Linked DNA regions of Homo sapiens: regions 2 and 3 are each linked to region 1. Evidence: fine-mapped expression QTL. A gene starts in region 1. Each other region holds a variant in brackets. All regions are shown on one strand. Distances are between the middles of the regions. Region 1 holds the start of AHRR (aryl hydrocarbon receptor repressor). Region 2 overlaps SLC9A3 (solute carrier family 9 member A3). Region 3 overlaps SLC9A3 (solute carrier family 9 member A3).

What was found.
Region 2: its variant is fine-mapped to the expression of AHRR in whole blood (TOPMed, PIP above 0.99).
Region 3: its variant is fine-mapped to the expression of AHRR in whole blood (TOPMed, PIP above 0.99).

The regions. Positions count from the first base shown.
Region 1 is chr5:317,465-325,632 of GRCh38, reverse strand. AHRR (aryl hydrocarbon receptor repressor) reads right to left here and starts at 3,919. Exons shown (of 11, transcript NM_001377236.1): 1 at 3,814-3,919. The region is part of intron 3 of PDCD6-AHRR (PDCD6-AHRR readthrough (NMD candidate)); the gene reads right to left. RefSeq lists enhancers at 2,908-3,027, 3,116-3,683, 6,817-7,116 and silencers at 3,268-3,327, 3,338-3,717, 3,808-4,297, 4,448-4,707.
Region 2 is chr5:497,525-505,692 of GRCh38, reverse strand. All of the region lies in intron 1 of SLC9A3 (solute carrier family 9 member A3), which reads left to right. Among named protein-coding and RNA genes, the nearest start is that of SLC9A3, 23 kb to the left of the region's middle. The variant T/G (reference allele first, on the strand shown) is at 3,274.
Region 3 is chr5:473,370-481,537 of GRCh38, reverse strand. SLC9A3 (solute carrier family 9 member A3) reads left to right here. Exons shown (of 17, transcript NM_004174.4): 10 at 1,573-1,702; 11 at 4,094-4,206; 12 at 4,866-4,995; 13 at 5,160-5,336; 14 at 5,446-5,518; 15 at 5,867-5,977; 16 at 6,406-6,655; 17 at 8,156-8,168. The coding sequence ends at 8,159. It overlaps SLC9A3-AS1 (SLC9A3 antisense RNA 1), which reads right to left. Exons shown (of 7, transcript NR_125375.1): 1 at 8,139-8,168; 2 at 6,219-6,401; 3 at 4,975-5,306; 4 at 4,202-4,294; 5 at 3,689-3,732; 6 at 1,322-1,756; 7 at 646-1,176. Among named protein-coding and RNA genes, the nearest start is that of SLC9A3-AS1, 4.2 kb to the right of the region's middle. RefSeq lists enhancers at 3,205-3,374, 5,770-6,410 and a silencer at 7,595-8,168. The variant C/T (reference allele first, on the strand shown) is at 4,788.

The DNA.
Region 1 (8,168 bases):
GGGTGGGACGGATGCTTCGGAAGGGTCCAGCCCTCCCCCCGAGGTGCTGTGGGATGCCCAGCCTCGTCTCCATCATGGTCACGTGTCTGGCCCAGTGCACTTCTCCCAGAAACCAGGTTGGGCACTTGGTGGCTGGAGGCCAGCCTGCAAGGACATCCCATCAGAACTGCAAGGCCTTTCGACTCAAACAGGAAACTCCCAAGCCGCACCCAAGCCTGGCCCCAGTCTGGTGGGGAGAACAGGCCAGAGACGGTTCCCAGCACCCCAAGGTGGGCCGGGCATAGAGCAAACCCACTCGACCACCCCTTGAGGTCAAGGAAGGTAAAGGGGATAGGGTGACCTACACCAGCCCCAGAAGACCCTGAGCCCAGGCACCACCAGCCTGACCAACCCTCGTCCCCAAATGAGTGCAGAGCCACAGGGCAAGAGCGGGTCGGGGGGTGGTGGGACAGCTGGGAAGATGAAGCGGGGCAGGGGATGTTGTCAGAGGTGGGGCTAGTGCAGATCCTTCTTGTCCCCAAAATCCCAAACTCCCTTCCGAGTAGCCGGAATTGAGACGGAAGCCTCGTTGCCCTCCTCAGCCTCACATACCAGTGACTACTCGCCCTGCAACGCCTGGGCAAAGCCACGTTCTCCCAGGTGTCTCCAGCTCAGTGCTGTGGAACGGTTCTAAAATCAAGGGTTCTGGTAAAAATCACCAGAAGCAGATAAATATTCCCTGTGGGCGGTGTGGGGGAGGGGCCCCGAGGAAATCCAAGGAGCTGGCCTGCCTACCCCCTCCCCACAGCCAGTGCCCCCTGAATAACCAGTTTTGGGTTTTTCGTTTTTTGTTTTTGTTTTTTTGAGACGGAGTTTCACTCTTGTTGCCCAGGCTGGAGTGCAATGGTGTGACTTTGGCTCACCACAACCTCCACCTCCCAGGTTCAAGCAATTCTCCTGCCTCAGCCTCTCGAGTAGCTGGGATTACAGGCATAGGCCACCACACCCGGCTAATTTTTGTATTTTTTTAAGTAAAGACAGGATTTCTCCATGTTGGTCAGGCTGGTCTCGAACTCCCGACCTCAGGTGATCCACCCGCCTCAGCCTCCCAAGGTGCTGGGATTATAGGTGTGAGCCACCACACCTGGCCCAGTTTCAGGTTTTGCTTGTGCCTCAGTTCTTTTTTTTTTTAATTTTTTTATATAAATGAATATATTTTTATTAAAAAAAAAATTCCAAGTGGAAGCACCTTTGGCTATAACTCATCGCATTGAAACAGCTAGGCGGCTGGGCGTGGTGGCTCATGTCTGTAATCCCAGCACTTTGGGAGGCCGAGGTGGGGAGAGCATGACGTCAGGAGTTCGAGACCAGCCTGGCCAACATTTAGTAGAGACAGTGAAACCCTGTCTCTACCAAAAATACAAAAATTAGCCAAGTGTGGTGGCTCACACCTGTAGTCCCAGCTACTTGGGAGGCTGAGGCAGGAGAATTGCTTGAACCTGGGAGGCAGAGGTTGCAGTGAGCCAAGAAAGCGCCATTGCACTCCAGCCTGGGTGACAGAACAAGACTCTGTCTCGAAAGAAAAGGAAAGAAAGAGAGAGAGAGAGAAAGAGAGACAGAGAGAGAGAGAGAAAGAAAGAAAGAAAGAGAAAAAAAGAAAGGAAGGTAGGAAGGAAGGAGGGAAGGAAGAGCGAGCTAGGCAAGGTGTTTCAGGGCCGCCAAGTCTTTCCTACCCGAGTCATCAGCCCCTAGCAGATCGGCCTGTTCATTCCTGCCTGTCTGTGAGCCGACTCTCCTCCGCAAGGAGCTCCGTTGAGTCTCCTTCAATGCCTGATCACCCCAGACCACATGGCGCTTTCCCGCTTCTGTGTCGTATTAACCACTTAACACTGGTCAGGGCCACCCGGCGGCATCTCTCCAACTGCATTGCAAATGACGACGGCTGGAACCACAGCTGCCTCCCCCTCCCCCGGCGTCTCAGCACCCAGCACGGGTGAACGAGGTGGGAAGACCCTGTTAAGCCACAAGCCGTCTCCCTCTGATCACAAGGCCTGCTCCCGGGAACACCAGGCCACATGAAGGAGGGGCCTCACAGTTGCAGGAAATAAATAATTTGGCACAAGGATCAAGATAAAGTAGTTTGAGAAACAGTTGCTGATAATACTTTAGAGAAAAGCCTCGCGGAGTTCAGGTGGTCACCTGAGCATATCTGAACTTCCTGGCCCTACTGGCAGAGATGCGAGGGGGTGGCAGGGAAGTGTGTCTCAGTTCTTGCCATACCTAGCCTAAATACAGGAGGAGGGATGCTATTACAATAGGTTGTTCCATTTTACAAAATACTCATGAACTCACCTCAACAGATGGAGCCTCCTTTGGACTGGACCAAACTCCCCACAGAAATGCCCCTGTGAGGCAAGACTCAGCTGTCCCCGGCCTCCTGACGGCAGCGTTCTTCTCTGCCTGGGACACAGGTCGAAGCTGCCTCATAGGTAATTGGGGGACAGGGGAGGACCCTACCCACTGCAGCCAGGGGCTCAGCCGGGGACCACGGGTGGGGCCTCGACAGACTCCTGGGTGCTGCTCACGGGCAGGTCCCACACGGGACAGAGGGGTCGGCCAGGGCCATCTGGGGCCTCCCAACCCCACCAGGCTGTGAGCTGACAGCACTCCTCTGAGAAATCTGAATTTTTCTAAGAACCTTTCTCCCGTGGTAAAACTCGTGTCTGTTCATTTTAGAGAATACAGATAAGTAAGAAAACGAAAATAAAAGCCGTTCCCCAGGCGGTGGCGTCCCCCCCGTCGAAGCGGCTCCCCAGGCGGCGGCGTCCGCCGGGTCAGCATCCTACGTTCTCCAGTTCTTGTTACTCGTGGCTTTTCAGCGACTCTGGGGCCGCATCGAGCCCCGGCTTTGTGCGGGATGGGTATGGCACACTCGGCCCGAGTCCAAACGCCGCCAGTCACTTGCTCTGAGAGGCTGGATGAGCGACCTACCTTGATGTCCTCGTTCGTAAAATGGGTGACGGTTGCCAGGCCGGGGCGGCTGTGAGGCCCCGTGGGGGTGGCGTTTGGAGAACGCGCGCACACGCCCACCCTTCTGCAAGAACCCCGCAGACGAGAGCCTGTGCGCGCGCACAGGAGGCCCAGGGAGGAAGCCCCTCCCCGCCTGCCCTTGCCATCCCGGAGGCCACAGCCGGACAGGCCCGTGGGACAGGCCCGTGGGACGCTTCTGCACAAGGTCTCTGACCTCCGGCCTCGCAGAAGAGGTCAGAGGGTGGCCCCTGCCTGTCACGCGCCCATGGCGACCCCTCCCCAGAAGGGGTCCCAGCGTGGACTCCAGGCGCCACATCGCTCTCTCAGGGCATCCGGTCTGGGAATTCTGGCCGCTCAAAATAAGACTTCAGCGCTACTGGGTGCTACTGAAACCAAGCCTGAACATGGGCCTTTCCCGGGGGTGAGGCCCCCCGGACCTGGCGCCCTCGGCCCGACAGCGGGGCCCCGCTCCGCCGCCCGCACCCGCCCAGCCCCAGGGAGCGCGGCCCGCACGGAACGCCCGGGGAGTGAAGGCTCAGAACACTCTCGAGGGGACGCTGAGGACCACGAACCGTGGACGCGCCGCGGCTTCCCTCCGAGGTCCGAGTTTTAAGTGAGACCAGCCAGCCGCACCCCAGAGTGTCCGCCCCGTCCCGGGGCCGCCGGGCCTGGCGACGCGAGGATGCGGCGTGAGGAGGGTCCCGACGCCGGCGCCCGTCCCTCAGCCCCACACCCGGGAGCGCATCCCGTCTCCACCGCGGGCGGCACGCGGCGGGGGCCTGCGGGGGCGCCCAGGACACTTACCCAGGGCCTGCGGGGCGCGGAGGCTCAGGCACACCCGCGGGGCAGCGCGCCCTGGCCAGGAGCTGTGGCGGCGGGTGCCGGCGCTCGCATCCCGGGAACCCGCGGCGGCTCCAGGGACTGCCCCACCCCGGCACGCGAGCCGCCCGCCCCGCCCCGCAGCATCCAGGGCCGGGAGGCGGCAGAGGGCGCCCGCGGGTCCGGCTGTCTCGGGTCCGGCTGCCCCAGCTGCCCTGGCGAACCGGAGACGCCATCCGGTTCCCCTGGGGTCCGCCCTGCGCCCTTCGCGTCCCAGTGATCCCCCGGAGTCTCCGTGCCCCGAGGCGGGGGTCGCGCGCTGAGCCCCTCCAGGCCCTGCGTTCCCCCTGGGGTCTGTGTGCGCCCAGGGTCCCCCGGTTCTCCCTGCGCCCCCGTCCCCTCCCCAGCGCTCGCGGCCGGCTGTGCTGAGCTGCCGGCCCTAGAGCCGGGCGGTGTAGACCCGAACAGGTAAAGTGAGGAGAGCGTGTGCCCCCTCGCCTGCCCCATGAGGTCGTTTCGAAAATGTAAAAGGAGTCATGGTTTTTGGCGAATTATAGAGAATATTAAGATGCTTTTGGATCCTGAGCTTCCCAGGAAGCGGACGCGCGCCAGGCACGGCAGGGTCGTCCGTGCGACGTTCTTCGTCCTGGGCATTTCAGGGTCCCACGCGGCAGGTGTGCGGCCCTGGGTGCCCCTGCCCCGCCCACCCCGCCGGTCGGCACCCGGGACCGCGCGGCCGAGAGCAGGGTCCTGCCTGCAGGTCCTTAGGGCTCACCCCGCGCCCTCTGCGCGCCCGCCGGCCCCTCCGACCTCGGGCTGCGCCTTCTCCTTCCCCCTCCCGGTGGTCCTTGGCCCCCTCTAGTCCTCCGTCCGGGCGCGCAGGCCCTGGCTGAATTCCCTGTACCCTCAGGGGATCCCTGGGGACACCTCAGCCTGGCCTCGCACCCTGACGTCTCCACAGACCCTGGCCGGCTTCCACCCGTTCTCGCCCTCGCTGGGGCCGGCCATGGAGTCGGTGGTCCCTGGAGTCCGCTCCTCAGCATCCGCGGTCCTCATCCCAGCCGGGGGAACCGCGCCCTCTTCATCCCGCAAGGTCGGTTTTCAGCAACGCGGCCGAGGCTGTCACTGGCGCCCCCAGGTTCTCAGTCAAACCCCGTCTCCCTGACGCCCCCAACCCGCCCCGCGCCTCCTGCTGTTCTCTGAATAAGGCGTGCGGGCCTTGGGGCCTTTGCACTCGCTGTCTGCTGTCGGCTCAGGAAAAGTCTCTTTTCCAGACACAGCTCCCAAGGTGGGGTGGGCGCAGCTGAGAAGCCCACCCTGCCCCCAAGTGGCCACCGCCCCTCCCCGGGTGTAGCTCCTGCAGGGCAGCCCAGAATTGCTGAGTTCTGCCGCTCTGTCCCCAGGGGTCACCAAGTCGGCTCTGCTCACCTCTGGTTCCTGTCGAATAGCAGAGGCTCAAAAATGTGAGCTGAGTAAATGGGCTTTTTTGGGACAGAGTCTTGCTTTGTCACCCAGGCCTGAGAGCAGTGGTGCGATCTCAGTTCACTGCAGCCTCTGCCTCCAGGGCTCAAGCGATTCTCGTGCCTCAGCCTCCCAAGTAGCTGGGATTACAGTCGCGCGCCACCACACCTGGCTAATTTTTTTTTTTTTTTAAGTAGATAGTGGTTTTGCCATCTTGGCCAGGCTGGTCTCGAACTCCTGACCTCAGGTGATCCACCCACCTCGGCTTGCCAAAGTGTTGGGATTACAGGCATGAGCCACTATGCCACTGAGACAGCCAGGAGCCCTGGGTGCACACATTTATTTTTTGATATGGAACAATGTGCAACTATATTGCTGTATTTTTAAAAATCATTAGTTTTATCTTGATCCAATTTTTGTAAAGTGAATTATGCACAGAAAATGTGTAGCTGGATAACTCTGAGGTAACAGGTGAACTTTAATTTCTTTTTACTTTTTGAAAAGTCTACAATTCCTGTAAATTTTTGCAAGAAGCACATAGTACCTTTGTGATCTGTTAAAATAAGAACCTGTGGGTAGAATGTGATGGTGGTGAGCCGCAGTCCCCCTGCATGGGAAGACAGCACCCCCATGTCTCAGGGCAAGCACGGGTTCCCTTCCACCTACCCTGTCCCACCAGAACCAACTGGAATGAGACACTTTGTTACTCTATTTCCTGGGTACAGAAGGAAACTGCTCCTCCTTCCTTCCCACTGCCCTTGACCGGCACAGGCCATCCACGCCCACCTGTCCCCTGTGCTTGTCCCCAAAGTCTCAGGTCTCTGCAGGACCTGGGGCAGCCAGTGGGACTGTGCAGAAAAAGGATGACCCTGCCGTGGGAGCCACTGCCCCTAAAGTCTCAGGGTTTAGCAGGCAGAGCCCCACGTGGAGTCCTGGAGTCTCTGGGCACCCCACCAGCACAATGGGGGATCCCTGAGCCACCTCCCGTTCAGACGGGCTATTGGGCGTGCCTCCCTCCCCACCACGAAGGTCCAGATGCAGCTGACACCCCCAGTCACAGAGTCTCCTTTCTGCCTCTGTGCTGGGGACCCTGTTCAGGAGGTCTCCTCCCTCCAGTCCGGACTTGCTGTCCCCAGTGTCATTGAACCCTCTGGCTCCCACCCACACTCCCAGCAGCTGGAGACACACCCCTTTCTCCTGGGCCACTGGTCCTCTCGGGACTCTGAACCAGAGGCGCTAACACCTGGCAGGGATGGCAGCTGGGGCAGGACTGGAAGCCTCCGAGGACCCACCCCCAGCTCCGGGTACCCCCACACTGGAGTCTGGTGCGGTGGGTCCCCAGAGCCATATGAGCTGGACTTGGCCTCCAGTGGACCGCCACATGGCAGGTGCCCACGGCCGGCTGCAGCGCCAGGCCCCTCCCAAACAGGCCCAAGTTGGCTTCACAGAAGTGTGGGGGCAAAGCTGCTCTTCATGGGCCTCCAGGAGTGGTGACTGTGACTGCCCCCTCCTGTCCTCTCCTGGCCACACCTTTGCCTCCCACAGGCAGGCCAGGTCAGGAGCCCCCAGGGCCCTGACCTCAGAGGCAGACAGGGGTGTGCTGACCCCTCGGGCCAGGCCAGGACCCCGCACAGGCGCCTGCGGCTCTCTGGCTCTCTGATGGCGGCTGGGTTTCCCGGGTTCCCCGGGTTCCCCATGACTGCTGTGTCTCCAGCGTTGATGCCTCACAGGGAGCCGCTTGGGCAGCCCTGGTCACGCCTGGGTTCCCTCTCTCTCCCACACCAGTTTCTCCCTGGTCACGCCTGGGTTCCCTCTCCCACACCAGTTTCTCCTGTAGCACAGAGAAGGACCTGGGGAATTTTGTCTTTTGTTAAAAACCACAAGGGAGCTCCCTGCTGGGCACAGTCACGGTGGCGCCCGTCAGAGCTGCTTCCAGGGTGCATTCCATCATTCCAAGTTCACTGTGCTGGAGTCAGCTCTCTGCTTGCCGCAGGGTGAGGGGGGGAGGTGGAGGGTGAGGGGGGAGGTGAAGGATTGGGGGAGGTGCAGGGTTGGGGGGAGATGCAGGGTGGGGGGAGGTAAAGGATGGGGGGAGGTGCAGGGTTGGGGGGAGATGCAGGGTGGGGGGAAATAAAGGATGGGGGGAGGTGCAGGGTTGGGGGGAGATGCAGGGTGGGAGGGAGGTAAAAGATGGGGAGAGGTGCAGGGTAAGGGTGGGAGGTGCAGGGTGCGGGGGGGAGGTGGAGGGTGAGGGGGGAGATGAAGGGAGGGGGGAGGTGAAGGATTGGGGGAGGGAAAGGATGGGGGGAGGTGCCAGGTGAGGAGGGAGGTGAAGGATGTGGGGAGGTGCAGGGTTGGGGGGAGATGCAGGGTTGGGAGTAGGTGGAGGGTGAAGGGGGGAGGTACAGGATGGGGGGAGGTGCAGGGTGAGGGGCAGGTGCAAGGTGAGAGGGGAGTTGAAGGGTTGTTGGGGGAGGTGCAGGGTTGTGGCGGGGAGGTGCAGGGTGGCTGTTGGGGGAGGTGCAGGGTTGTCCGGGGAGGTGTAGGGTTGTGGGGGGAGATCAGGGTAGGGAGGGTGGGGAGGCATGGGCCAGGGGCCCCAGGTGAGGGTGTACGGCGTGCACCTGCACCTCCATGTCTGCACTGATGACTGAGGACCCAGAGCGGGGGGAAGGAGAGGCCCCCAGAGATGGCTGTGCCCCCATGTCCTGCTGTCTTGGGTCTTGGGACCGGGGTCGTGACGCTGAGGGTCCCTGGTGGGTGGTCGTGGCCGCTGGCCTGGCCTGGCCTCCGCGACCCAGCCTCACCACACTGGGCCTGCGCCAGGCACCTGGTCAGCTGTCCACCCCCTCCACCCCCAAACCCAGGCTCTGAAGGGT
Region 2 (8,168 bases), 180 kb before region 1:
ACTCTCCCCCCGTGGTCACTCCCCACCCCCCCACAGTCACTCTCCCCTCTGTGGTCACTCTCCACCCCCCACAGTCACTCTCCCCCTTCCATGGTCACTCCCCACCCCCCCACAGTCACTCTCACCTCCGTGGTCACTCCCCACCCCACCCCCCCAGTCACTCTCCCCCCGTGGTCACTCCCCACCCCCCCACAGTCACTCTCCCCTCTGTGGTCACTCTCCACCCCCCAACAGTCACTCTCCCCCTTCCATGGTCACTCCCCACCCTCCTACAGTCACTCTTCACCCCGCGGTCACTCCCCACCCCCCAACAGTCACTCTCCCCCTTCCATGGTCACTCCCCACCCCCCTACAGTCACTCTCCCCTCTCCGTGGTCACTCCCCACCCTCCTACAGTCACTCTTCACCCCGTGGTCACTCCCCACCCCCCCACAGTCACTCTCCCCCCCCCATGGTCACTCTCCCCCACCCCCCTCGATGGTCACCCCCCAGCACACATCCAGATGCTCCTCCCACAGCAGCCTCCCTCCCTTAAGAGCCTCTGAAGCTAAAAATGGAGGAGGATGCTGTTTCTCATTTGTCCAGGTCTCCAGCCACCCGGGATTCCATCCCCTCATTCTGTTAAAGGGGTCACTGCGTCCACGCTGTTCTGAGGCCTTTTCCCATTTGCACAGGGAAAGCAGGGGAGGGGTGGCAGCTGCTGGCCCCTGCTTCTCAGCACTGGGCTCTGTGTGGCGCCCACGTGGCCACTGTGCCCTGCAGGCGTCTGCTGCTCTTCCAGGCACAGGCGTCCGGGTCTGGGAGCCACTTTGCTAGCCGAGGTGTGAGCCCCCGCTGTATGCCACTCAACCAGCCGCACCCCTGCCCTCCCCTTCTGAGCCTCTGGCCCGGCCCCCATGAAGGGGCCATGTCGGTGGCCGGCCAGGAGCTGGGCACGAACACCCCTTCCCCTTCAGCCCCCACGTTTAGAGACAGTGGCCTCACAGCGCTGAGGGGTGCAGGTCCCGGTGCCCATGGCCCCAGAGGGAGGCACTGCCCAGCAGCTGAGGGTTTGTCTGCTGTCCCCACCCCGAGCCCTCTGGGCTCACCCGGGGGTGACAGGAGGAGGCAGCGGGGCCGTGAGCCCGGGGAGCCTGAGATCTGGCCGCTTGCTGTGTGGTCTGAAGGTCCCGGCACCCTCCCTGGCTGCCGCCGCCGGACACACTGGAGGAGGCTGTGGAGTTCTCTCCCGAGGGCCAAATCCAACGGCCCCTGCAGCGGCTCAAGGTTCAGCCAGTCCTGGACCCTGCATGTCCACCGCCCTGGGCCCTGGCTGCAGCCCCGGGGGGCTATTTCCTCACTTTACAGAGGGGAGCCTGAAGCAAGGAGGGCAGGTCACACCTCCTGGGTGGGTCACGGGACGCGGGGGCTGCAAGAACACGGGGAGACGTGTGCCCCTTGGGTTCCCGGGGGTTCCGGAGCTGGCGGCAGCCCCACAGCGATGCCTTCCGGCACCTTCCCTCCCCAGGCGCCTCATATAGGACGCTGTCTCCTTGCTGGAAGCTTCTGCAGAAGCTTGTTCCCTTCCCTTGTTTAGTTGTTGATAAACCAAAGGCAAAAACACGGGGAATGCTAAACTTCCGTGATTGATGAAGACGGTTTCATAATTTCTACTTTGAAGTGAATGATTTTATAAGGGCAAGAGAGAAGAGAGGGTGAAGTGTGAGGAAGGTGGGGGTGGGTGGGACCCTGAGAATCCAGGCACCGGGTGAAGATGGGAACCCCCCAAGAGCTCTGGGGGCCCAGTCTTCTGTCCAGAGGCCCCAGCCTCGCGCAGACGATTCGCCGATTCAGGAGAAACCACAGCCGTGGATGAGATTTCCAGCAGACACGCCTTCCTTGCCCATTTCATGGAACAAGAAGAAAGTTCTTTATTGGTAACTCACACACATTATACAGATGGAAAGATTCTCCATTTGTTTTTGATTTTCAGCAGTCTGACTGTGCCGTGCCCACAGGCAGGATTTTCCCTGTACTTGCATTGCTTGGAGCTTGCAAAATTTCTCAAATCTATAAATGTGTGTCTTTCACCAAACTGGGGACATTTTTTACCATTCGCTCTTCAAGGTTTCCCCGCCCCATTCTCCCTTCCTTCCAGAGCTCCAGCTACACATATATCAGGCCTTTTTCTGGGCAAGGATGGGGGCCTCGCTCACTGTCACCCAGACTGGGGTGCAGCCTCAACCCGCCCAGGCTCAATGGACCCTCTGGCCTCAGCCCCCTGAGTAGCTGGGACTATGGGCACAAACCACCAGGCTCAGCTAATGTTTTAATTTATTTTGTCGAGAAGGGGTTTTGCTGTGTTGCCCAGGCTGGTCTTGAACTCCTGGGTTCAAGCGATCCTCCTGCCTTGGCCTCCCAAAGTGCTGCGGCTACAAGCTATTGATTTTGCCCCACAGGCCACTGAGGCTCTGGTTACTTTAAAAACCATTTTTTCTCCTTGGTCTTCCGATGGGATGATTTCTTCTGATCTGTCTTCCAGTTCACTCTCTTTACTGTCATTTCTGTCTGCTCGTAAGTCTATCCATTGAGTTTTTATGTCAGAGATTCTAGGGTTTCTGCTTGGTTCTCTTTGATAAGTTCTATTTTAGGCATCAGCAAACTACAGCCCGTGGGCCGGCCACTGGTTGTTGTAAATAAAGTTTCACTGGAACGCCCATCTGTGTCGTTACAGCGGCTTTCGGCCTCAGTGGTAGTGAGTGGTAAAGTTTCACTGGAACACAGCGCCCATCTGTGTCGTTACGGCGGCTTTCGGCCTCACTGGTAGTGAGTGGTAAAGTTTCACTGGAACACAGCGCCCATCTGTGTCATTACGGCGGCTTTCGGCGCCCGTCTGTGTCGTTACAGCGGCTTTCGGCCTCACTGGTAGTGAGTGGTTATGAAGTGATCCTCCTGTTGGCAGCTTGCAGGACCTAAAATACTCACAATCTGCCTTTAAGAAAAAATGTGCCAAGCCCTGTTCCACTCCACCGCTGCGGCTTGTCCTTTTTAAGTGGTTATGAGAACGTTTCTTTTCTATCCTTGAGCTGCTGTTTTAGGCCCTTGTCTGCTGATTCCAGGGTCTGACCATCTTGCGTTCTCCTCTGATTTGAGCTGGGCCACATTCCCACTTCACGTGTCTCGTGACTTCCGTTGCCCCAGGACGTTGCGACCGGTGTCTTGCCGGGGACTGTGCTCCGCTGCGGCCCCTGGTAGGCGCCGCTGGGTCTGCGGTAGCTGAAGCTTGTTGCTGCT[T/G]TGAGCAAAGCCCTGAGGTGGTGGCAGCTGGGATCTGCATCCAGGTCTTTCCTCTGCTGTGGGCAGCTTGGGACCTGCCTGTGTCTGTCTGTTCTCACGCTGCTAATAAGGGGGCCTGGGCCGTCTCTGGGGGTGGGGGGCCGGAGCGGCTGGGTCCCAGAGAGGAAGGGGTGTGGGGTCTGCCCAGCGTCCTGGACAGAGGCCGTGGCTGGCTCAGAGGCTGCGTTCATTTTGCCCCAGCGCGGTTGCTCAGGGTGGTTTGGAGTCGAAGGATCTCCTGATTCTCTAGGGAACCGTGGGCAACATTCATGTTTCAATTTAAAAACCGACCAGGTTTGCTCGAGTGTTGTAAATGTACAATGTGTAAAACGCCTTGTGACTTGAGCGCAGGGAGTCCAGTCCTGAACGGGCTGTTGTTCTTGGAGCTGTGTGAACTTCATCTGGCAGGAAGCAGCTTCCCGGCCCGGGGGCCCGGCCTCGCTCGGAGAGGGGCTTCCTGCGTGGCCCCCGGGAGCCGGCTCCCCTGTCCCACGCCAACCTGAGTACTCACGGGGAACTGCACCCGCAGGCAGGGACGCGTGGGGTCACGCAGGCACGTCTGCCAGGCCGCACGGCGGACCTCCGTGAGCACCTTTACCTCCGCCCTGGGCTTGACGGCCGACACATTTACCGTGATTCCTCGCCGGTGCCCCACAGGCGGGTAAAGTGATACTGAGGTCAGAGTGTGCTGGCGAGCTCTGCTGGACCTGCAGGGGCGGGTGGCAGAGAACTCAGACCCACAGCTGTGCTAGGAGAACAGGGTGGACCCTGTGCGTGTCTCCTCTGTGTGTCTCTGCACGTCTCTGCGTCTCTGCGAGTCTCTGTGTGCGTGCACGTGTTCCTGCATGTGTCTGCGCCTGCCTGTGGAATGCCCCGGCCCCTCGTCCCCCGGGAGGGTGGGTACCTGTGCTTCCGCCCTCCTTCCTGGCCTCACCGCCCCACCGCTCAGCCAGGCTGTTTCTGGGAGGCAGAGTTTAATCCTCCGGGACGTGTTCCTGTTAAAGTAAAACCACAGGATTGACTGCGCTGTTGCATTTTTGTGGACTCGGCTGAATCTCTGCCACCTTGAAAGGTCCTTGGAGGTGGCGGAGGCCCTGGGCCTGACCAAGCCCCGTCCCTCTGTGCTCCGAGGGGTGTGACATGCATTGGGCCGTGGCCTTCCTGAGCCCCCCGGGGCCCAGAGAGAAGCCCTTTCCGGCGCCCATCCGGAAATGTCTGGTTTGCCAGCGCCGGCCCTTCCTCCTCCAGGCACAGGGTTTGTAATTAGAACTAAAAGCGTCTGTCCCCTGTCGTAACCATCAGGCCACCAAGCCATTGTGTGCTTAATTAGCTGTGACTCTCCAGCCTCGGCAATCAGTTACCTGAGGGCCTGCGTGTCCCCAGGTTTGTCCCCTTGTGTGGAAGCCACACGGGCTGTGGCAGGCGGACTCAGGGCCTGGCCCTGTCCACACCGGCCCGTGTCCACACCAGCCTCGTCCACACCGACCCCATGTCCACACTGACTCTGTGTCCACACTGGCCCCATCCACACCAGCCCCGTCCACACCCACCAGCCCCATCCACGCCTGCCCCATCCACACCAGCCCCTTCCACACTGACCCCATGTCCACACTGGCCCTGTGTCCACACTGACCCCGTCCACACCAGCCCCGTCCACACCCACCAGCCCCATCCACACTGGCCCCATCCACACGGCCCCATCCACACCAGCCCCATCCATACTAGCCCCATGTCCACACCAGCCCCATCCACGCCTGCCCCATCCACACCGGCCCCTTCCACACTGACCCCATGTCCACACCGGCCCTGTGTCCACACTGACCCATCCACACCAGCCCCTCCCACACCAGCCCCGTCCACACTGGCCCCATCTACACTGGCCCCGTGTCCACACCGGCCCCCTGTCCACACCGGCCCGCCTGGCCTCTCCGTGCTTGGTGTGTGTTTCCTGTGTCCCTGGAGGGTCCCGTCCCCGTCTCCTGCCACCCCCCCTTCCATTCTCGCCAGGGATCCACGCCAGTCGCATGCCGTGTGTGCACCTAGCTGGGGGAGCCTCGTGGCGTGTCCCAGTGGTGCCGGAAGCCGGTTCCGTCTGTGGAGCTTCTCGTGGTTTGGCTTCTGCAGTTGTGTGGCTGAGCCCAGGCTCTGCATAGTGCGTCTCGGGAGGGTCCCACACCGCCTGGTTCCCTCACAGTGTGTGCCATGGGGCGAGTTCTATTCTCTTCATTTCCTTAAGGCCTCAGACACCCTCTGCCCTTTCAACCCACAGGGCCGGGGTTGCCGCAGTCAGTGCGGTGGACCTGAGGCTCTTCTGGTAGAAGGTTGAAGATGTCGCTGCCTGTTGCGTCCCAGCCACCCTGCAGCTCCTGCCCAACAGCTCTGGGCCGAGGAGGCTGTGCCCTGCGCCTGTGGTGGCTCCGACGGGGCCCAGGGCTGTGGGTTCCTTCTTCTTTGAGGTGCAGTGGCCCCTCCACACTCCCATGGTATCTCTGTAGCCATGCTGGCTTGAGCAGTGGCCCCTACAGAGGGGCTGGACCCTGGACTGGGAGTGGCTGGGCCTTCTGCTGATCTACGGAGACGTTATGCGCAGATGCAAGGTCTCTAGGAGCCACCTTGGCATTATCTCGGGCCCTGCCAGCCACCTCCCTCCCGTTCTAGAGCCTCGAGGGCCCACGTGTCCCCAGGGAGCAGGAGTGACTGGTTGTCAGACCAGAGGGAGCTGCAGACGGCATCAGGCACTGGGCGGTGTCTGGAGATGGCGGACAGAGGGCACAGGAAGGAAGGACGGCCCAGCATGTGGGGACGTTTCCACACAGGGACCCTGGAACCCAAGTGTCGTCATCCCATCCTAAAAACGTGCAGATTGTGGCAGTAAGTAAGCGCCTTGCCTGGAATGAGTCTGTGGAACAGGCCCTAACCACAGGCCCAGGCCTGGTTGGTGCCGGCAGATGCCCCCAGAAAGCGGGGTGGCCCCGGCTGTGTGCATGTGGACAGCACTGCCCGGGTCAGGCCCTCATGCCAGGCCAGTCCCTGGCACTCAATACCGACTGGCAGCAGGAACTGGACCCTGCAGGGCTCACAGCACAGGGACTTGGCTCCCAAACGTCCATTGTGTGCTTAATTGCCAAACTACTAGCAAATTGCCTCTTAAAACCAATTGAGTTCTTGGTTTCACCAGCTAATTACAATGCAGACTGCCGTTCAAGAGGAGGCCATGGGTCCTTGGGAAAAGCCGTGTGGAGCAGACCAGCCCCAGGCTGAGGACGCCCTCTGAGGACTTCCATCAACCGCAGAGCCCCTGGTTTCAGGAGAAGATGAGAACGAGACCCTTCCCCTCTCTTGGTCCCCAGTCCAGTGTCCCAAACCAGGGAGATGCAGGGTCACCAAGGAGAGGCCTGGCCTTGGCACCTCCTCAGGAGGAAGAAGCAGAAGCCCAGGAGACCCCCCACCCTGGCTGGGGCGAAACTGCCATCCGATACCAGAGGAGACGCTGCAGGACTCCTCTGCCACAGGAGAATGGGTAGAAAGCAGTGTCCCACCCAAAGCCAGCTCAGCAGGGAGACACACCCCAGGAGAGGCAGCCGAGGCCAGCAGGGGCACTCTTCCCAAAGCGGGGTTGTGCAGAGAATGTCCACAGAACCTTCCACGGCGGGCACAAGCAAGGGGAGAAGACACGGTTGGCCAGGCACGGTGGCTCACGCCTGTGATCCCAGCACTGTGGACGACCGAGGTGGGCGTGTCGCTTGACCCCAGGAGTTTAAGACCAGCCTGGCCAGCATGGTGAAACTCCATCTCTACAAAAAATACAAAAATTTGCTGGGCATGGTGGCGCACGCCTGTAATCCCAGCTACTCAGAGGCTGAGGCAGGAGAATCGCTTGAACCCAGGAGGCGGAGGTTGCAGTGAGCCGAGGTGGTGCCGCTGCACTCCAGTCCAGGTGACAGAACGAGATGATGTCTCAAAAGAAAAGGGCTCAGTGGCTGGACTGATGCTGGAAGGCAGGAAGTGGGGCTGGCGGGGAAGAGCCCAGCCCGGGACAAGTGTGACAAGAAGCAGAAGGAGTCCCGCCCGTACCTCACACCACGGAAATGGCCGGAATGTGAGTCACGGAAGCAGCAGCTCCAGGGTGGGAAGTGGAACGGGGGCGTTCATCGTGAGGACGTTCACAGAGAAGACACGGTTGGCAGCACCCCTCAGCGTCGGACCGAGACGTGGCCCCGAAGTAGCAGGGGCGGAAGTGGCGGCCGAGGCTCAAGCCACTGTCAGAGCGAAAGGTCCGAGAGACGTCCAGGAGTGCGGAGAAAAAAGATAAGATAGAGCGACCAGAGGCAAAACAGCATCCTTGAAGAGGAGGGCGGTGGCCGAGGCAGGAGGCCGGCATCCGTGAGGCAGGGACTCCCACAAGCGAGGCTAAGGCTTCATAGCTGACCAGCAGGTGCCTGAGTTGTCGGAGGGCAGAGGCTGGGGATGCGGCCGGGCGACCCCACCCGGGACAGGGGCAGAGGCTGGGGATGCGGCCGGGCGACCCCACCCGGGACAGGGGCAGAGGCTGGGGATGCGGCCGGGCGACCCCACCCGGGACAGGGGCAGAGGCTGGGGATGCGGCCGGGCGACCCCACCCGGGACAGGGGCAGAGGCTGGGGATGCGGCCGGGCGACCCCACCCAGGACAGGGGCAGATGAGGCTTCACTCCCAGGGGTCAGGGTCAGCGGCTCAGGGGGGCTGCAGGGGATCTGGAAGCTTCAGGAAGCTTCTTTGAAGTGGAGGAATAACCAAAGAATAGAACAATTGTGTTAAGAGATATCCTTGTTTCCTGGTTGGAAACAATTTATTCTGACAACCAGACAGAGATAAAC
Region 3 (8,168 bases), 160 kb before region 1:
GTCGCACAGCCCGGCTTCTGGAAACATCCTCCACTCGGAAGAACCAGAAGCCACATGCATAACAACTGTTTGAGTCCAGGCTTGGTCAGGGCTCCGGTGCCCCATGAGGCCAGGTGCCAGGTGTGCCCCGAGACACGCAGGTGCTGCGGAAAGGAGTTGGCGGCAGCAGTTGGGGCCACCGAGTGAGGGGACAGGAGCTGAATTCTCTGTGCTCCTTCCAGGGAATAGAGATGCCCTCTCATGTGGCCCAATTAATTCCAAATTGTTATGTAGGAATTGAAAATAAGGCAAATAGATTATTTCCTCCACGTCATAAACAGGGTTAGTATCAGTCAACATTTAAAATGATTTTGTCTGGCAGGGCTCAAGCCTGTAATCCCAGCACTTTGGGAGACTGAGGTGGTCAGCTCACTTGAGGTCAGGAGTTTGAGACCAGCCTAGCCAACATGGTGAAACCCCGTCTCTACTAAAAATACAAACATTAGCCAGGGGTGGTGGCGTGGGCCTGTAATCCCAGCTACTCAGGAGGCTAAGGCACAAGAATCGCTTGAACCCGGGAGGTGGAGGCTGCGGTGAGCCGAGATTGCGCCATTACATTCCAGCCTGGTGACAGAGCGAGACTTCGTCCCAAAATAAAAAAAAGAGTTTGTCCATTAAGGTGAAATCACCTATGTTTTATTATAAAAAACATGTGACACTTATAATAAACCCAGTAAGGAGCACATACAATTTGCCCTGGGTTCCCATTTTCTGAGCGATCTGTGTTTGCTTGGGGTGGAGGCACCGGGAGGTGTGGCCACGTGGCTTCATAAAGCTCAGCTGCGGTTCTCCGTGGCCACAGTGACTCTGCTCCGGGTACCCAGTCCCCGACTCCTTGGCCTCCCAGGGGCCATCCCGGGGGTCTCGGAAGGCACAGCCTCGGTTAGCTTTGACTTCTTGGTGTGGCTGAAACTCAGCCTGTACAGGAGAGCTGCCATTGCTGCCGCGGGGCCTGCCCAGGTGTGAGCACACAAGCTCACCCGGGCCCACCCTGTGCCCTGGAGGGCGGCTCTGGCGGCTGCACCCATGTCCAAGTGACAGGCATCACCTCCTTGTGCCCCAGAGTTTCCTCTAAGTCCGGCCAGGCCACCGTCCCTTCTGATCTGGATAACCAGCGAATACTCTAATTCCGTTAGGCTAAAAAAAACCTCACTCTGGTCAGCTTGGCTCCCACAAGTCTAAGGGCTCAGGGTGTCTGTCCGCCCCTGCCCTTCCTCCTGTGCACCTGAAGGTGCCCCCCATGTGGCCAAAGCCCCCTTGCCTGACCAGGCCTGACACCCACCGTGTCCTGAGCCACCCTCTGGAGGAGGCGGCATGCAGTTTCATATGCGTCTAACGGCCTCCATCCAACAGGACAGGCGGGAGAACGGCGGACGGCCTGGGCGTGTGGCAGGGGCTGCTTCCCTCATTTTAAACGCGCCTACAGGGTCACTATAGCAAACAAAATTCAGGAGAGAAGGGGCCGGGCCACGCGTCCGGCGGGCTCTAGGGCGCCTGTCACCTGAGGCTCACACCCAAGGTCTGTCCCTACAGGTGGTCCCACTTCGACAGGAAGTTCCTCAGCAGGGTCCTCATGAGACGGTCGGCCCAGAAGTCTCGAGACCGGATCCTGAATGTCTTCCACGAGCTGAACCTGAAGGATGCCATCAGCTACGTGGCTGAGGTAGCAGAGCCGCTTGCTCTGCCGGGTCGGGGCTGCAGCAGGCTCTGGCACTGGCTGTGGGTGCCATGGGGCAGTGAGGAGAGGCCCCTGCACCCGCGTCCCAAGGCCAGGCCCACCCCAGCAGTTCACGGGAGGCTGATGGGCCTTCTGATGCCCTGGGAATCCCAGGGGCTCTCGTGGGGTAAACTGAGTCACAGAGTCCTGGTGACTGTGGTGCTGGTGGGGGTGAGCGCTGAGGTCAGGTCCTAGGACCCCGAGCTCCCTTGCTTTCCCCAGGGATGGGAGCAGACGGTAAGCAGGCAGGCTGTTACGGGACCTGGTCCCAATACAGCCCTGCCTGCCCCAGCACACGCAGGTGCCCACAGGTGCACACGCACAGGCAGAGGGGCAGCAGCAGGGCCGTCTCCCGCTGTGGGCCGGCCATGGCTCTGAGGCTGCTCCAGCATCTCCCAGTCCACTATGAGCAGGCCTCTCAGCGTCTGCAGAGCCCCTGACTGCTCCAGAGACCAGAGGCCAGGCGCCCCACCCAGCCCCGAGGCCACTGCCGCCCTGGCTCCCGCACCTGCCCACTATGGCAGGTGGGCCTCAGCCTCCCCGGCCTGCCCTGACCTCCCCAGGGGCGCCCTGGCTGCAGGAAGTGTGCAAGGCAGGGCCTGGGGGCACAGCTGCAGGGATTCCGCAGCTCCTCCCTAAGGACAGAGCCCTCCCTAGCGAGCTTTGGTGCCCTCATCCAGCAGCCGGTCAGGGTGGGTGCTCTCGCCGGAGAGAAAGACCTGTCCTGCCAAACCCTGCAGACCCTCACACAGAGGGCCAGTGGGGGCCTGGAAACTCCATTCATTCAGACAGAATGATTCTGCCTCCACTGACGTGCATTCACCCCAGATGTGCCACCCGTGACTGGGGCCATGCCAAGTGGCAAGGCACCTCCTGGCAGAGGGCACGGGGGCCTGGGGCTGTCAGGAGGGCCAGCCAGTGCAGATCAGGAAGGAGGGCTCCTGGACCAGGCTCCACACAAACCCCCAAACCACAGGCCCGGCAAGCGAGAGAAAGCTCAGATACTCTGGCCCTAGGAGGCCTGGAGCCTGGCTGGAGGGTGGGAAGGGACAGTGGGGGCTCTGGCCTCTGGCGGGCTCCCCTCACCCCCACATAGGTGACAAGGTTGGCAGGCGGGCCTTGAGCCTCTCCCCCAACCACACCAGCCACCATCCTTGACCCACGACCCACGACCACAACCCTGGGCTCAGCTGCATGTGGGGAGCCTGTGGGCTCCTCCCGGCCACTCAGTAGCGGGGGTCCCCACACCTGGGGTGGCATCTGCCTGCCCAGTGTCCCTCCTGGCTCTCACCCAGGGCGGCTGCTTTCTCTCCCTGCGCCCCCCCACCCCACGGCAGGGCTCGGCAGGGGCAGGGGAAGTGGTGTGGGGAGCAGCCCCTCCGAAGACCCCACGTGCCCGGGTGCTGCACAGCCCTCGCCTGTGCCCGCCCAGAGTGGCAGTTAGCACCGTGGCTCCCCTGACCCTCACGTCTGTCTTCGTGGGGTGGCAGGAGCGGGACAAAGGTCATACAGAAGATGCTGGATTTAGAAGCAAAAGAGCAGGCGGAGGGCCCTCAGAACCAATGACCCTCAAATCCCCCCCGAGTGGGCAGTGAACTGGGGGCCGCATCTTCAGTGGGAACAGCGGCACCCACCTGACCCCGGGGGCTTCCCTGGGAGCATCCTGCACACTGAAGGCGGCACGGGTGCCCACCTGGCGAGGTCTGAGTGCAGTGAGCTGACGTTCCCTCCACACCCGTGCCCCTGCCGGCCCTGGGGACCCTGACTCCAGCCATAAGCCCACTCTGCCCTGTGCTCCTGCACAACCTCATGCTCTCCAGGCCCTGCCATCAGGCGGGTGGGGTCTGAGGACACATAGGCGGCCCCACTTCCATCCTCTGGCACTCAGCTGTGTGGCTTCTGTGCCCCATCGGGCTCTGCTCCGTTCTCTACCTGATTCAGTTCTGGACATGAGGCCAATGGAGTTTTAGGGTCTCCTGCAGGGACAGAGACCACTTCAATGATTCTGCAGTATCAACACTTTCCCCAGACACATCCCAAGTCCCAGGCAGCTTTACCCCTTCACACTCAGACCACTGTGTCCTCCCACAAGCATGACCTCTGCCCAGTTCAGGCAGCAGCCTGGCTGTGGCCTCAGACGGACAGGGGCTCAAAATCTGATCTCCTGGTTTTGGCATTTCCACCCCTCCCTCTGCAGCTGTGAGGCGTGAACCCGGGGCTCAGGTCTCAAGGCTTTCCCCGGGCCCCGAGCTCTGGGCGCTTCCCCCCAGGGCACACAATGGCAGCAGCTAGGGCTTGGCTGCTCAGGCCACTGACCGGGCTGCTTCCTGACCACAGGGAGAGCGCCGCGGGTCCCTGGCCTTCATCCGCTCCCCCAGCACCGACAACGTGGTCAACGTGGACTTCACGCCACGATCGTCCACCGTGGAGGCCTCTGTCTCCTACCTCCTGTATGTGGCCATGGTCATGCAGCTTCCCTGGGGAAGAGCCCAGCCTCGGGAGCTGAGAGTCACAGACAGGGCTGTGGTGGCTCCTGGCCTGGGGGTGGCATGGAAGAGGGGAGAGGTGCAGAAAGAGGGGGTGGGTGTCTCCTTCCACAAGCCCTCCTATATTAGGCCGTGGCCAGACTCCCTTAGTGCTGGATGGAAGGTGAAAGGGAGGGGCAGCAGCGGACTGGGGGCCAGGCCTGACGTGTTTGCCCCTGGCCCGCAGCAGCCTGTCCTGGTCCCCATGCCACCCTTACTGCTCCTCCGGCCCTGGGCTCCACAGCTCACAGCCAGTTCTCATAGGAGGTCCACTCTGCCAGATGTGCAGATGCTGGGGTCCCCGAGTCTTACAGCCAGGGCTTTGGAGAGGGACCAGTAAGGAAAGGGACCCACTTCAGACAGGAGGCCAGGAAGGCCTCGTGGGGAGTCAGCCTAAGCCCCGAGGGGAGAAGGGGCTGGCCAGATGGCAGATGTCCCCGTGCCCCAGCCGGGTGCCCACCATGGGAAGGCGAGGGGCACGCAGGAGGCAGCCAGGGCCAGATGCC[C/T]GCCGTGGGAAGGCGAGGGGCGCGCAAGAGACCCCACCCTGAGGGAGCCTGTATGGCTCAGCGCTGGTCCCCACGCAGGAGAGAAAATGTCAGCGCTGTCTGCCTGGACATGCAGTCTCTGGAGCAGCGACGGCGGAGCATCCGGGACGCGGAGGACATGGTCACGCACCACACGCTACAGCAGTACCTGTACAAGCCGCGGCAGGAGGTGGGCACTGCGGGCTGGGGGCTGGAGGACCCCGCAGGGACCCCGTGGGGCGGCTTCCTCGTCCCCTCCTGGGACCACGGGGGATCCGTGCTCAGCTCCTGCGGCAGGAGGGCGAGAATGTCCGGCGGTGGGCACAGCTGTGACCTCCGTGCCTGATCCCGCAGTACAAGCATCTGTACAGCCGACACGAGCTCACGCCCACGGAGGACGAGAAACAGGACCGGGAAATCTTCCACAGGACCATGCGGAAGCGCCTGGAGTCCTTCAAGTCGACCAAGCTGGGGCTCAACCAGAACAAGAAGGCGGCCAAGCTGTACAAGCGGGAGCGTGCCCAGAAGCGGGTAAGGCTGGGTCACCAGGAGGCTTGGCGGGGCTGGGGCCTGGAGCGGGGGCAGTCAGGGCTGGGTGTGGCTGTGTCGGGGTGTGAGCAGCTTCACGTTTGCTCCGCAGAGAAACAGCAGCATCCCCAATGGGAAGCTGCCCATGGAGAGCCCTGCGCAGAATTTCACCATCAAGGAGAAAGGTGCGCTGGGGGCCCTGCAGGAACGCTGGGACTGGGAGCCACCACCTCCCAGCCCCAGCCCTCCCGGCTCGGGAACCTCCCCTCTCAGGACCTTCCCCTCTGGGGACCCTCCAGCCACCCAGGCAGGGGAGGCATGGTCAGGGCCCCAGCTGCAGACCCACCCAGGATGGGGTTCCAGGGACACTGCCCTCTAAGTGGGGTCCCTCCTCCAGCCCTGCGGTTTAGCCCTCCTCTCTGTGGGTCCCGACTGCCTGCACCTCTGTGCACAGAGCTGATGGACACTGCTGACTGGGCTGTGAGGACAGCCCCCCAGTGACCCCAGTCCTCACCCCAACCTGTCTTCCCCAGACTTGGAACTTTCAGACACCGAGGAGCCCCCCAACTATGATGAGGAGATGAGTGGGGGGATCGAGTTCCTGGCTAGTGTCACCAAGGACACAGCGTCCGACTCCCCTGCAGGTGGGGACGGGGCACAGGCGTCGTGGCTAAGGGAGGGGTGGCTCCTGCCGCCCCAGGAGGGAGCTCGGTCATTGGACCAGGGGCACTGGGACCTGGGGGGGTGGGGTCTCCTGTGGGTTCTCAAGGGCCCTGCTTGGCACCCACTGAGTGCCCCCTCAACCAACTCGGAGGCTGCTGTCCGGGGAGACGTGGGCCGGGCAGGGAGCAGGTGGGGTATGTCTTGAGGGAAGCGAGACGTTACCTGTGCTGCCTGTGGCGTGTGGGGTCATGGATGTGGGGGAAGGGCCCGCAACCTGAAAGGCACGTGACCCTAACCTTCCCGGTGACCCTAACTTTCCAAGGCACCCAGCAGGTGACGGCCCCGGCGAGGTCTCCCCTGCCGCCGTGGGGCTCTCCGAAGGCTGACTAGCCGCTGCCCTCTCTCCTAGGAATTGACAACCCTGTGTTTTCTCCGGACGAGGCCCTGGACCGCAGCCTCCTGGCCAGGCTGCCGCCCTGGCTGTCTCCCGGGGAGACGGTGGTCCCCTCGCAGAGGGCCCGCACGCAGATTCCCTACTCTCCCGGCACCTTCTGCCGCCTGATGCCCTTCCGCCTCAGCAGCAAGTCCGTGGACTCCTTCCTGCAGGCAGACGGCCCCGAGGAGCGGCCCCCCGCCGCCCTCCCCGAGTCCACACACATGTAACGCTCCCGGGCCTCCCGCCGCCTAACCCCTCTCCGCAGCTCCTCTCCCTCCAGGTCTCCGCCTCGCGCGCGCTGTCTCTCTCCCTCCCCGCCTAACCCCTCTCCGCAGCTCCTCTCCCTCCAGGTCTCCGCCTCGCGCGCGCTGTCTCTCTCCTCCCTGGACCTGAACCTGGCTCGCTCTCTCTCTCCCCGCCTAACCCCTCTCCGCAGCTCCTCTCCCTCCAGGTCTCCGCCTCGCGCGCGCTGTCTCTCTCCTCCCTGGACCTGAACCTGGCTCTCTCCCTCCCCGCCTAACCCCTCTCCGCAGCTCCTCTCCCTCCAGGTCTCCGCCTCGCGCGCGCTGTCTCTCTCCTCCCTGGACCTGAACCTGGCTCGCTCTCTCTCTCTCCCCGCCTAACCCCTCTCCGCAGCTCCTCTCCTCCAGGTCTCCGCCTCGCGCGCGCTGTCTCTCTCCTCCCTGGACCTGAACCTGGTTCTCTCTCTCCCTCCCCGCCTAACCCCTCTCCGCAGCTCCTCTCCCTCCAGGTCTCCGCCTCGCGCGCGCTGTCTCTCTCCTCCCTGGACCTGAACCTGGCTCGCTCTCTCTCTCTCCCCGCCTAACCCCTCTCCGCAGCTCCTCTCCTCCAGGTCTCCGCCTCGCGCGCGCTGTCTCTCTCCTCCCTGGACCGGAACCTGGTTCTCTCTCTCCCTCCCCGCCTAACCCCTCTCCGCAGCTCCTCTCCCTCCAGGTCTCCGCCTCGCGCGCTCGCTCTCTCTCCTCCCTGGACCTGAACCTGGCGCGCTCTCTCTCTCCAGCAGCCCCTCTTCCTCCTCTAGCGCCCTGCTGGCCGCACCTCCCTCAGGAGCCCGGACAGAGATACTCTGGCGTCTCTGCTGCTCCCACGGAGCTGAGGGCACTAGGGCCGCCTGAGATTTCCTTTAGGTGGCTCCGAAAGCTAGTCCGCGAGTCCAAATCCTGCGCTCCCAGGGAGCTGAGAGCAGGGCTGGGGGAAGCCAGACAGACGCCCCGGGTCCCCGACCCTCTCACAGGGATACAGGGAGGGCCGGCCCCGCAGACCCGGACTCTGCCTCCAGCTCAGAGCAGGGAGAGGGGCGGGCCGTGGGGTCTGGGCTTTCTGAGCTCCCTCTGGGGGCCTGGGAGGCACCCGGGGGACGCCAGGGCGGTTTGAGATGGAGGAAGCAGGTCCCCTTGGGGACCTTGACCTCCCGCGCTGCAGGGCCTGGGGCGGGACCTTCCTGCGCCGAGGAGGCCGCTGTCCCGGGACCCCCGGCGGGGGGACGTGGCGGGGCCGGGCTGGGGCTTCGCTGTTGCTGCTTCCGCCTCTGCCCCGCGAACCCGGGTCCTGGGAGGAGGCCCCAGCGGACGCCGAGCCTGGGGTGCGCCGCGGGAGGGGAGGCGAGAGCCGCCGGGCTCGGGGACAGCTGAGGCCCCCGGGGACGCCCCTCCCGCCCCAGCGCCCGGGCTCCGCGCGCCGCTCACGCCTTCCTCTCCCGCAGGTGACACCGGCTC